Linked DNA regions of Homo sapiens: region 2 is linked to region 1. The links come from fine-mapping of genetic effects on plasma protein levels. A gene starts in region 1. The other region holds a variant in brackets. All regions are shown on one strand. Distances are between the middles of the regions.

Region 1 (5,399 bases):
GGAGGTCTTACGATCTACAGTCAGACAAGGTAGGTCAGAGAATTTCTTCATGGCTAGTTCTAAGACAGAAAGGTGGGCCAAGATTCCTGTCAAGGGCTATGGGAGTTATGAGCCAGGAATGGTGGATGCAAACTATATATATATATATATACACACACACACACATACACACATACACACACACACACACATACACACACATACACATATATAATACAGTAAATATACTTTATATACTATATATTTAGATACTATATATAGTATATATACCATACATAAGTATATTTAGATACTATATATAGTATACCATACATAAGTATATTTAGATACTATATATAGTATATATACCATACATAAGTATATTTAGATACTATATATAGTATATATACCATACATAAGTATATTTAGATACTATATATAGTATATATACCATACATATTTAGATACTATATATAGTATACTATACATAAGTATATTTAGATACTATATATAGTATACTACACACAGTATCTTTAGATACTACAGTATACTACACATAAGTATCTTTAGATACTATGTGTAGTATATATACTACACATAAGTATCTTTAGATACTAATGTGTAGTATATATACTACACATAAGTATCTTTAGATATATATATCTAGTATATATATACTACACATAAGTATATATACTACACATAAGTATATATACTACACATAAGTATATTTAGATACTATGTGGAGTATAAATACTACACATAAGTATATTTAGATACTATGTGGAGTATATATACTACACATAAGTATATTTAGATACTATGTGGAGTATATATACTACACATAAGTATATTTAGATACTATGTGGAGTATATATACTATACATAGTATCTATGTGTAGTATATATACTATACATAAGTATATTTAGATACTATGTATAGTATATATACTATACATAAGTATATTTAGATACTATGTATAGTATATATACTATACATAAGTATATTTAGATACTATGTATAGTATATATACTATACATAAGTATATTTAGATACTATATATACTATACGTAAGTATATTTAGATACTATATATAGTATATATACTATACATAAGTATATTTAGATATATATACTATAAATAAGTATATTTAGATACTATATATAGTATACATTAAGTATATTTAGATACTATATATAGTATATATACTATACATAAGTATATTTAGATACTATATATACTATACATAAGTATATTTAGATACTATATATACTATACATAAGTATATTTAGATACTATATATACTATACATAAGTATAGATACTATATATAGTATATATAGTATATATACTATACATAGTATATTTATGTACTATACATATAGTATATTTATATACTATATGTAAGTATATATGTAAGTATATTTATGTACTATATATAAGTATATATACCTAAGTATATTTAGGTACTATATATAAGTATGTATACCTAAGTATATTTCTGTACTATATATAAGTATATATACCTAAGTATATTTCTGTACTATATATAAGTATATATACGTAAGTATATTTCTGTACTATATATAAGTATATATACGTAAGTATATTTATGTACTATATATAAGTATACAGAAGTATATTTATGTACTATATATAAGTATATATACTATACATAAGTATATTTATGTACTATATATAAAGTATATAAGTACATTTTATATATATTTTTATATATAGTTATATATAATATATGAATAGTTATATATATATAAATCACAGTACATTTATTGATGGGCAGGGTCCGTAGTTTACTCACTTTCATTTTCCCAAAGCCATAAACACCTGAACTGTTTCCTGCTGTTTCTGTCCTGGTCACAGCCTTCCAGCGTAGGAGCCAGGCCACCTTCCTTTTTGCCACCTGTCCCAGCACCGCGACTGCGGGCAGCACAGGACCTGGGCGCTGCCCCATCACTTAGAGTGACTACCTGGGCCTGGGGATGCACCAAGTTTCTAGGAGCTTTTCGGAGTTGGGGACATAAAAAGGGGCAATTATTCCACAGAAGCCGCCACAGAGGTTAAGTGAGGTCGCGTGAGCGAACCGCTACTCCAATGCCGGAACTGTTCCCGGTCGCCCAGGGCAGCTCCGGATAACGCAGCAGGCAGGGGTCACCCAGAGGCTGCCTCCACCCTAGGCGCCGACCGCGCACGGCGCTCGCGCCCGCTCCTGAGGAGGGAAGGGGCCTCCCTGGAAACCCACAGCGCCCGCTGAACCCGGAGGGTGCGGTGAGGAAAATAACGGTCTCACCTTGAGTCGGAGGACGTCCGGCTAGCTCTGTGAACGGTGTTACCGCACTCGTCTCTTCCGGAGGTAGAGGGGCTACTCGCAACAGGAAGTTCCGCCCTTAAAAACTCCATTCCTGAGGGGGCGTGGTTGCTTTGCTGGGCCCCGCCCCGAGCTGCGCCCTGCGAGCCTCTGCCAGGCCGGGCCGGGTCCTGACCCGCGCTGGAGCATGGGATACTGCCTCTTCATTCTAGCTTCTGGTTCTTTTCTCCTGCTTGTCTTTTCATCTCTCAGTTTTTAAACATTACTTCTCTCTTTACTTTGCCTTTTTCTTCTTTCGTCCTCCATTCATTCACGGTTTCCCATTTAGCTTGCTTTCTTCTTTCTCCCATTTATTCTATAGTACTATTTTGACAAAACCCAGATTGCAGATATGATTCCGATTATGCAGCTTTTAGGTGCTAACCTAAAGCTGGTAAACCTATACTAGATTAAAAAAAAATAAACTGATAACCAGAACCAACTGCCCAATTCTTGATAATTTACTTACATACTATTTATTGAGGACTTACTATGCTTCAAGCAATTGTGTGGGGTTTTATTGTTTTGTTTTTTTGAGACGGAATTTCACTTTTGTCGCCCGGGCTGAAGTGCAATGGCGCGATCTCGGCTCACTGCAACGTCCGCCTCTTGGATTCAAGCGATTCTCATGCCTCAGCCTCCTGAGTAGCTGGGATTACAGACGCCTGCCACAACGCCCGGCTAATTTTTGTATCTTGTAGAGACGGGGTTTCACCATGTTGCTCAGGCTGGTCTCAAACTCCTGGACTCAAGTGATCCGCCTACCTCGGCCTCCCAAAGATTACAGGCATGAGCCACCACGCCTGGCCGAAATGTGTTTTTATATGCATTATTTTCCTTAAAGTTTTAACAGTTTCTTGAAAAAGGTATGATTAGCTTTGTCAGACAGATGAGGAAACTGAGGCTCAGAGTAGTTAAGTGATTTGTCCTCAGGTCACACAGCAAGAGCAGAGAGTGAAACACACTGAGTTCAAAGTTTTGGGGTTCAGAAAATGATACCCCACAATGAAGGCCTCAGAAGCAGCCTTAGAAGGAAAAATTTTCCTCTGACTCCTTTTGGTCTCCTGTCTCTGGTCCCACATTCTTCCCCAGACTAGTCATAGAAGCTAGAATTCCTCTTTCCCAAATCAGGTCCCAGAAATCAGGACCCCTTTTTTATAAAGCCAGCCATAAAACATAAAAATACTACTCTAGGCCAGGCAAGGTGGCTCACGCCTGTAATCCCACCACTTTGGGAGGCCAAGGCAGGCGGATCACGAGGTCAGGAGATCGAGACCGTCCTGGCTAACACGGTGAAGCCCCGTTTCTATTAAAAACACAAAAAAATTAGCCGGGTGTGGTGGCTGGCACCTGCAGTCCCAGCTACTCGGGAGGCTGAGGCAGGAGAATGGCATGAACCTGGGAGGTGGAGCTTCCAGTGAGTGGAGATCGCGCCACTGCACTCCAGCCTGGGCGACAGAGGGAGCCTCCGTCTCAAAAAAAAAATATATATATATAGAGAGAGAGATATAGATAGATAGATAGATAGATAGATAGATAGATAGATAGATAGATAGATAGATATTACTCTAGCATTCTCCCTGTGTTTCTATGTAAAATCTGACCACGAAGAAATTATATGACTCACCCTGTCTGAGTTTAGGTCATAAGACCCCCATTCCAAAGAGGGTCCTATGGAGAGAGGCCAAGAAGAATCTAAGCAGACAGGTCTTACTGGATTTCCCCAGTCTAATAGCATTAGGTTATACCCTCTTTGTCCAACCATATTCTACACAGCTGTCCATATGCTGTTGAAACTAAGCATAAAATGGACTGTCCCCTTATACCTTTGGGTCTTCATTCTGAAGGCTCCCAAGTCACATAAAACTATGATCAAATAAAATCCTTTTCTTCTATTTATCTGCCTTTTGTCAGTTGATTTTCACCAAACCTTCAGAGGACAAAAGGGAAGTTTTTTCTTTGGCCCTACAAAAGTTTACACACTGAGAATATATGGCACAATGAGATCACATTATATGAGGTACAAGGACTAGTTATGGTCTTAAAATGTTTCTTCTTCTTGAAAGAGTTGGCCAGGTGCAGTGGCTCATGCCTGTAATCCCATCACTTTGGGAGGCCAAGGCAGGCAGATCACCTGAGGTCAGAAGTTCAAGACCAGCCTGGTCAACATGGTGAAACTCTGTCTCTACTAAAAATACAAAAATTAGCCAGGCATGGTGGTGGGTGCCTGTAATCCCAGCTACGAGGGAGGCTGAGGCAGGAGAATCGTTTGAACCCCGGAGGTGGAGGTTGAAGTGAGCCGAGATAGCGCCATTGCACTCCAGCCTGGGTAACAAAAGTGAAACTCCATCTCAAAAAAGAAAGAAAGAAAGAAAGAAAGAAAGAGCGACATCGTGGTACATACACCATCATAGTGCAAAAAGCATTGCACAGATATAAGATGTCCTAGCTACAACTGGACCAGGAAAGTAAGTTAGTTATTTGGCTCTTTGCTTAGGAAGTTACTGTTTCTGTTTGTTTAATCAAAAGACAAAATGTCACCAATATATTTCAAATGAAATGTCTTAGAGATGAGTAATTTGGACTGGACTCAATTCTCACACCTCACAAGGACCAATAAACATCTTTAATCCAAAAAGAGTGATGCCTTAGGTATCCGGTTTGGATGTCTATCAAATGATACTTTATTTTCTTAGAAAAAAAAAAAAGGCTTCTGAGGCTAGTTTTTCGGTTCTTCATTGCCAATCTTCTTAAAATAAAAATATTGCCAACCGCATGCTGACAAGTGCTCATTCGTAACCAACTAATATTTCCAAAGTTTTAACAGAAAAGTCATCGGTCATCTAAGTTTATGTAAATGAATGTGGTTTCAGTGACTTGAAAAAACTGCTAAAATCAGCATAAACAATTTGAAGTAAAATAAACTAAATATCAAATATCCCTTCAAATGAAAACCTTACAAGCTTCCTATGTCAGGTGAGCAGGAAGTCCAGTTTTTCCAAGAGGCCTCACCTCAACAGCTACTTCACATTGGTTCTCAGGTAACTCACTCAGT
Region 2 (5,399 bases), 160 kb before region 1:
CTGGTCTAGAATTCCTTTTCATGTTTTTGTTTGGTGTTGAGATGGAAAAACAGTGAGAAGTTAATCCTGGAGTGGAGTAGAGGATTGGCAACAACCCTCAACCCCTGCTAAAATCTTCATTGCACAAATACATGCTTGCTTTGTTTTACCTGTGAGTCAAAGGATTAGGCTGCATGATATTTTCATTCTCTTTAGTTTTTTAGTTCCTCAATCCACACACATTTTATATAATGCTTACGATTATACATTTATCTCATAATTTTTTTCTCATTCTTTAAACTATGAGAACAAGGAAAATGGCATTCATTTTCATTGTTTGAGAACAAGTTGTGATTTTATATTAGTCGTTGCAGAAGGTGGGAAGAAAGCGAGGATGGGCTAACTCACCACCACCATTTTCCCATCCACCAGCTTTCTCGTTATGGTGGTTTCTTTGCCATCCCAGTCCTGAACTTGAATCAGGGACTCCTTATCTAAGGTTACTTTACTCTGAAAAACAGAAAAAACTAAATTCAGATCAGCTTGTCATATTTCAACATTAAAATTTTATCAGGCAGCAAATTCTTTTTAGCTGTTGTAATACTCTCAGGTAGTTTTAGAATGGTATTGACAACTCTATTTATTTTAAGACTTTGTCAGCAGTAAAATTGTTGCCTAATTCTGCTGAAGAAAAAAGGTTTTACAAGAGTAAAACTGTAATATTATCTTGAAGAATAAGTAAAATGTTCTTTCTTTTTCTTTTTTTTTGAGACAGAGTTTTGCTCTTGTCACCCAGGCTGGAGTGCAATGGTGCGATCTTGGCTCACTGCAACCTCCGACTCTCTGGTTCAAGCAATTCTCCTGCCTCAGCCTCCCAAATAGCTGGGATTACAGGCACATACCACCACGCCCAGCTAATTTTTGTATTTTTAGTAAAGACGGGGTTTCACCATGTTGGCCAGGATGGTCTTGAATCTCCTGACCTTGTGATCTGCCCACATTGGCCTCCCAAAGCACTGGGATTACAGGCATGAGCCACCACACCCGGCCATGAAATGTTCTTTTTATCTTTGACTGTGTAAGCAGAGTATTATCTTTTTGCATAAAGAATTACAAATACATTTTAACTTTCAAAATAAGTGTGAAACTCCAGCCTGGACAGCACAGTGAGACCCCCATCTCCATAAAAAATAATAAATTAGCCAGGTGTTGTGGCACATGCCTATAGTCCCAGCTACTTGGGAAGTTGAGGTGGGAGAATCACCTGAGCCTGGGTGGTTGAGGCTACAATGAGCCAAGATTGTACCACCGCACTCCAGCCTGGGCAACAGAGACCCTGTCTCAATAAAGAATAATAATAATAATAATACATGTGAAACTAATTCAAACTCCCATTATATGAGCTTACTTAAAAGAAAGAAGGCCTCTTTCCTCTTCTTATCCCAATAATATTTTCCAGTTTTTTTTGTTGTTGTTGTTGTTTTTGGAGATAGGGTATCACTGTGTCATCCAGGCTGGAATGCAGTGGTGCAATCATGGCTCACTGTAGCTTCAACCTCCTGTGCTCCAGCAATCCTCCCACCTTAGCCTCCTGAGTAGCTGGAACTATAGGCACGCACCACCACAGTGGCTAATCTTTGTGTTTTTTGTAGAGGCGGGATCCTGCTATGTTGTTCAGGCTGGTCGTAGACTCCTGGCATCAAGCAATCCTCCTGTTTTGGCCTCCCAAAGTGCTGGGATTACAGGCATGAGCTACCGCACCCAACCTAGCTTTTTTATTCTAGTAGATTTTTAAGAATTTAGCATAGAAATCCATATTAAGCATTTAAGTCAAAAATTTTCTTCCATTTTATATGGTACAAGAATTTAAACTCTCATATTCATTTAGTAACTATTACAGTGGCATGATAGTTCCTTTTATCAGGATATTATCCTCCATATAGTTTAACAATCCTCTATTGAGTTCATTCATTCAAATAATAAATATTTATTGAACAACTGTCATGACCAAGCACGGGGTTCTGTGAAACAGACAGGAAATCCTGTTTTGGATGAGCTCTTACATTCTGGTGTAGGGAAAAAGACTGTAAACAATACGTGTAGAAGTAAATTACATATTATAAATAAATAATATATTCCTGAGATATGTGCCCTTGAGATATGAATGAAAACTCTGTGTGGCACTTTCAGGGTGAGACAATAAAAAGCCCATGTCTCTTTATCCTGGTGTTGGAGAAGACCAGGATGTCCACAGGTGGTAGTTGAACCTCTTTTGGCATGGATCCCTGAGAGATTAGGGGGAGCAGATTTCCTGTTTACTCCACTACACACACACAAACTTCCCCAATGCCACCCAACACTACGTATGTACTATAAGTTAGAAATAAATCCCCATTGTGTTAACTCACTCCAGGCTTGTGGTTCATTGTCACGGTGGCATAACCTTACCTCTGCCAGCTAATACGAGGTTTATTCACTGTAATTCTATGTGTAGAAAACTGCTACAAAATGGATAGGGAAAACTTTTGTTTCTGAGAGGACTAAACAGTAATCTAGGGAAATGATTCTCAAAATGTGGTCTGCTAAGCGTCTGCATCAGATTCATTAAAAATGCAATTTTCAGGGCCTCTGGCAGTGAGCAGGAGGCATTTTTCACAAGCATCCCAGAAGATTTGTATCTTCACATTGACATCCTTAGACCTATGTTTTAGA[C/G]AAAAGTTCCTCTTAAGGACTTTAGATATGTTTGCTAGAATTGCTTACTTACCGAGGATGATATCTGACTAACATTCTTTTGAAATGTGTCTGAAAGACTGTCGTAGGCCTCACCTTTGTTTTGTGGCCACCTGGCGTGATTTCCTCAAACTCTTCTCCCAGCTTAAAGGAGATCTCATTATTTTTAAAGATGCTTTTGGTTTTTATTGTGATGACATCTCCATCTGTACTGATGGTCACAGTGGGTTTTGCCAAACGGCCCAGTTTCCTGCTGGCTCTTCCTATACCTGGAAACCAGATAAAAGGAGTATTATCTTTTTGCATAAAGAATTACAAATACATTACATTACAATACAATACTTAAATCTGTTGTTGACTCCAAAAACTCAACATTATCTGTATAATTCTTTGCTAACTAGGAGGTTTGCGAATTGAACAGATTTAATGGTGCATGACTTCACATATCCCAAGCCAGCAGCTCCACCATGACATGTTAAAATAGACTATCTTTGCAGAAAAAAAATCTGTCTCTAGTTGTTGTTTAGTGAGTATTCTTTTTCACTAGTCCAGTAGCTATTAATCTTACTGATTTTTGAACCCCTTTGAAAATCTGATTAAAGCTATCAACTATCTCCCTATTTTAAAATTATATCCACTCACATACAAACAAAATACTTTGGTATGGATTTTGCCAGATATTTAGCTCTTCACTTGTATTCTTACATGTATATATATATGGGTTTGTTTCCTCAATGATGTATGTTTTTATTGTGGTAAAATATTTATAACATATATTTACCATTTGAAGTTACAATTCAGTGGTATTGAGAACATCACAATGTTGTGCAAGCATCACCATTATTTATAGGATTTTAAAAAATATGTTATATCTACTGTTTTTCAACTTGCTTTTTCCCCTTATCTTGTCTTGGAAGTTTTCCCCTTATCTATGTCTTGAAAATTTTCCATGTCACTCTATATAGATATATACTTTTTCATAGTACATAATATTCCACAGTGTGTATAGACCAAAATTTATTTTGTCTGTCTCCCTGTTGATGAACAATTCATTTGTTTCCATTTTGGTTATTACAAATAATTATGCAGTGAACATCCTTGTATACACAGCTCTGTGCAGCACATGTAGGAGTATTTTCAGTAGAAATAGCATTACATATACTGCAATACCTAAGTTAAAATTCTAAGGGAAGATATATTGGGAAAATACTATAATGTAGTTCATGGAATTCATATCATAAAACACAATCACAGGATGTGACAGATTGGATAATGGTTCCTAAAGATATTCACGTCTTAATCCCTGGAACCTGTGAATGTTACCTTTACATGTTAGGAGACTGTACAGATGTGGTTAATTTAAGGATCTTGAGATGGGGAGAGTATCCTGGATTATCAGAGCAGATCTCAAACATAATCATAAATTTCCTTTTAAGAGGGAGGAAGAGGGATGCTATACTACAGAAGAAGAGAGAGCAGTGTGAAAATGGGAGCAAAATTTGGAGCATTGCTGGCACACACTAAGGAAAGCCAGTAGCCAGCAGAGGCTGAAAAACAAAATCTACTCTGAACTTTATTCTGAAGATCCCCTAAAGCTTAGAGCAAACATTTACAAAATAATCATTTTAAAAAATAGTTGTATTTTTTTGTTTTAAAACATTTATTAAAATCACTTGCTGTTTAGTTAGTTTATGTAAATTAATGGTAACTTATATGAGAGATTATTGTCAACTCCAACATAGTTTTGCACAGAACTATATCCTGGTACTCAATCAATATTTATTTTTTCCTATGTGAAAAATTAGGGAGTTCAAGATTAATATTATTTTATACAGAGCAAGTTCTGTGCTATCAAAATGCCCATTTTTACTGGATATGATATGCAAGTAAACATAGCTCACCCAGCTCCTTCATGTAGTCTTCGGAATTTTCACAAGAAATGGACTTCCATGTTCCTTGGAGCTGGTCAATCATTCTGTCTGAGATAAGTTGATCTCAAAGAACAGTAGTTTCATGTGTATGCTGGTTTTCCCTGAAGTAGTATGGGAACTTGTTTTTAATACAATTTTGGGTAGAGAATGAGATGAGAAAAGTTAGGAAATAAAATAAGGAACTCTAATCCTTGCAATGTTCCTTGAGTATCATCTAAAGCAGAAAAGCTTTCTTAAATTTAAATACATCAGGATGAAAATGGAAACACAGTAGAGTGTTTAGCAGAACTAGATATACCTTTTCCAACACCAATTTAGCATCAAAACTAAATGTTACTTTCCTTCCCTAGGACCTGCCAGGCACAAAGCAGTGTGTAAGAGCTGGGCCTGGACAGCTGTGTTTATGCCGTGGAACTTTTGTGCCCAGGTCTCTCTCTCTGTCTGTCCAAAGATGATTCAGAAAAAGCCAATTTATTGGCTGTTTGAAGATCATTCTCATTCTTGATAGTTTCAACTAAACACCAGACAGACTTCATAGATGGTACTTGACATTTGAAGTAAAAAGTTAAGTTTAGTAAGGGCTAGAACAACCACTTTAAGTCATGTGCACAATGAAAAAGAGAATGGGACAGAGAAAAAAGAAAGGAAAGAGATCATGTTACAAACACATGCACACACACACACACACACACACACAGCCCTGTTACTGACACTTTTCCAGGTGCCAGCTCAACTTCCCAACGGTTTAGAGAGCCATCA

Direction of the effects. Positions count from the first base shown, and alleles are read on the strand shown. Strength reflects both the effect of a copy and how common the allele is.
For the plasma level of the protein whose gene starts at base 2,361 in region 1, G is the low allele of the variant in region 2 and C is the other (weak association).

What was found. A credible set is the group of variants that fine-mapping cannot tell apart. PIP is the posterior inclusion probability: the model's chance that the variant is causal. Protein levels are from antibody-based Olink assays in UK Biobank. Linkage for the fine-mapping came from a reference panel and not from the study's own genotypes, which makes the PIPs less certain.
Region 2: its variant is the best candidate, but not a certain one, in a credible set for the plasma level of the IMPA1 protein (UK Biobank, PIP 0.59).

Annotation. Positions count from the first base shown.
Region 1 is chr8:81,683,965-81,689,363 of GRCh38, forward strand. It overlaps IMPA1 (inositol monophosphatase 1), which reads right to left and starts at 2,361. Exons shown (of 9, transcript NM_005536.4): 1 at 2,288-2,361. RefSeq lists an enhancer at 2,107-2,607.
Region 2 is chr8:81,526,633-81,532,031 of GRCh38, forward strand. It overlaps FABP12 (fatty acid binding protein 12), which reads right to left. Exons shown (of 5, transcript NM_001105281.6): 2 at 4,611-4,758; 3 at 2,806-2,978; 4 at 388-489. The coding sequence starts at 4,683. All of the region lies in intron 3 of LOC101927118 (a long non-coding RNA gene), which reads left to right. Among named protein-coding and RNA genes, the nearest start is that of FABP12, 4.5 kb to the right of the region's middle. The variant C/G (reference allele first, on the strand shown) is at 2,692.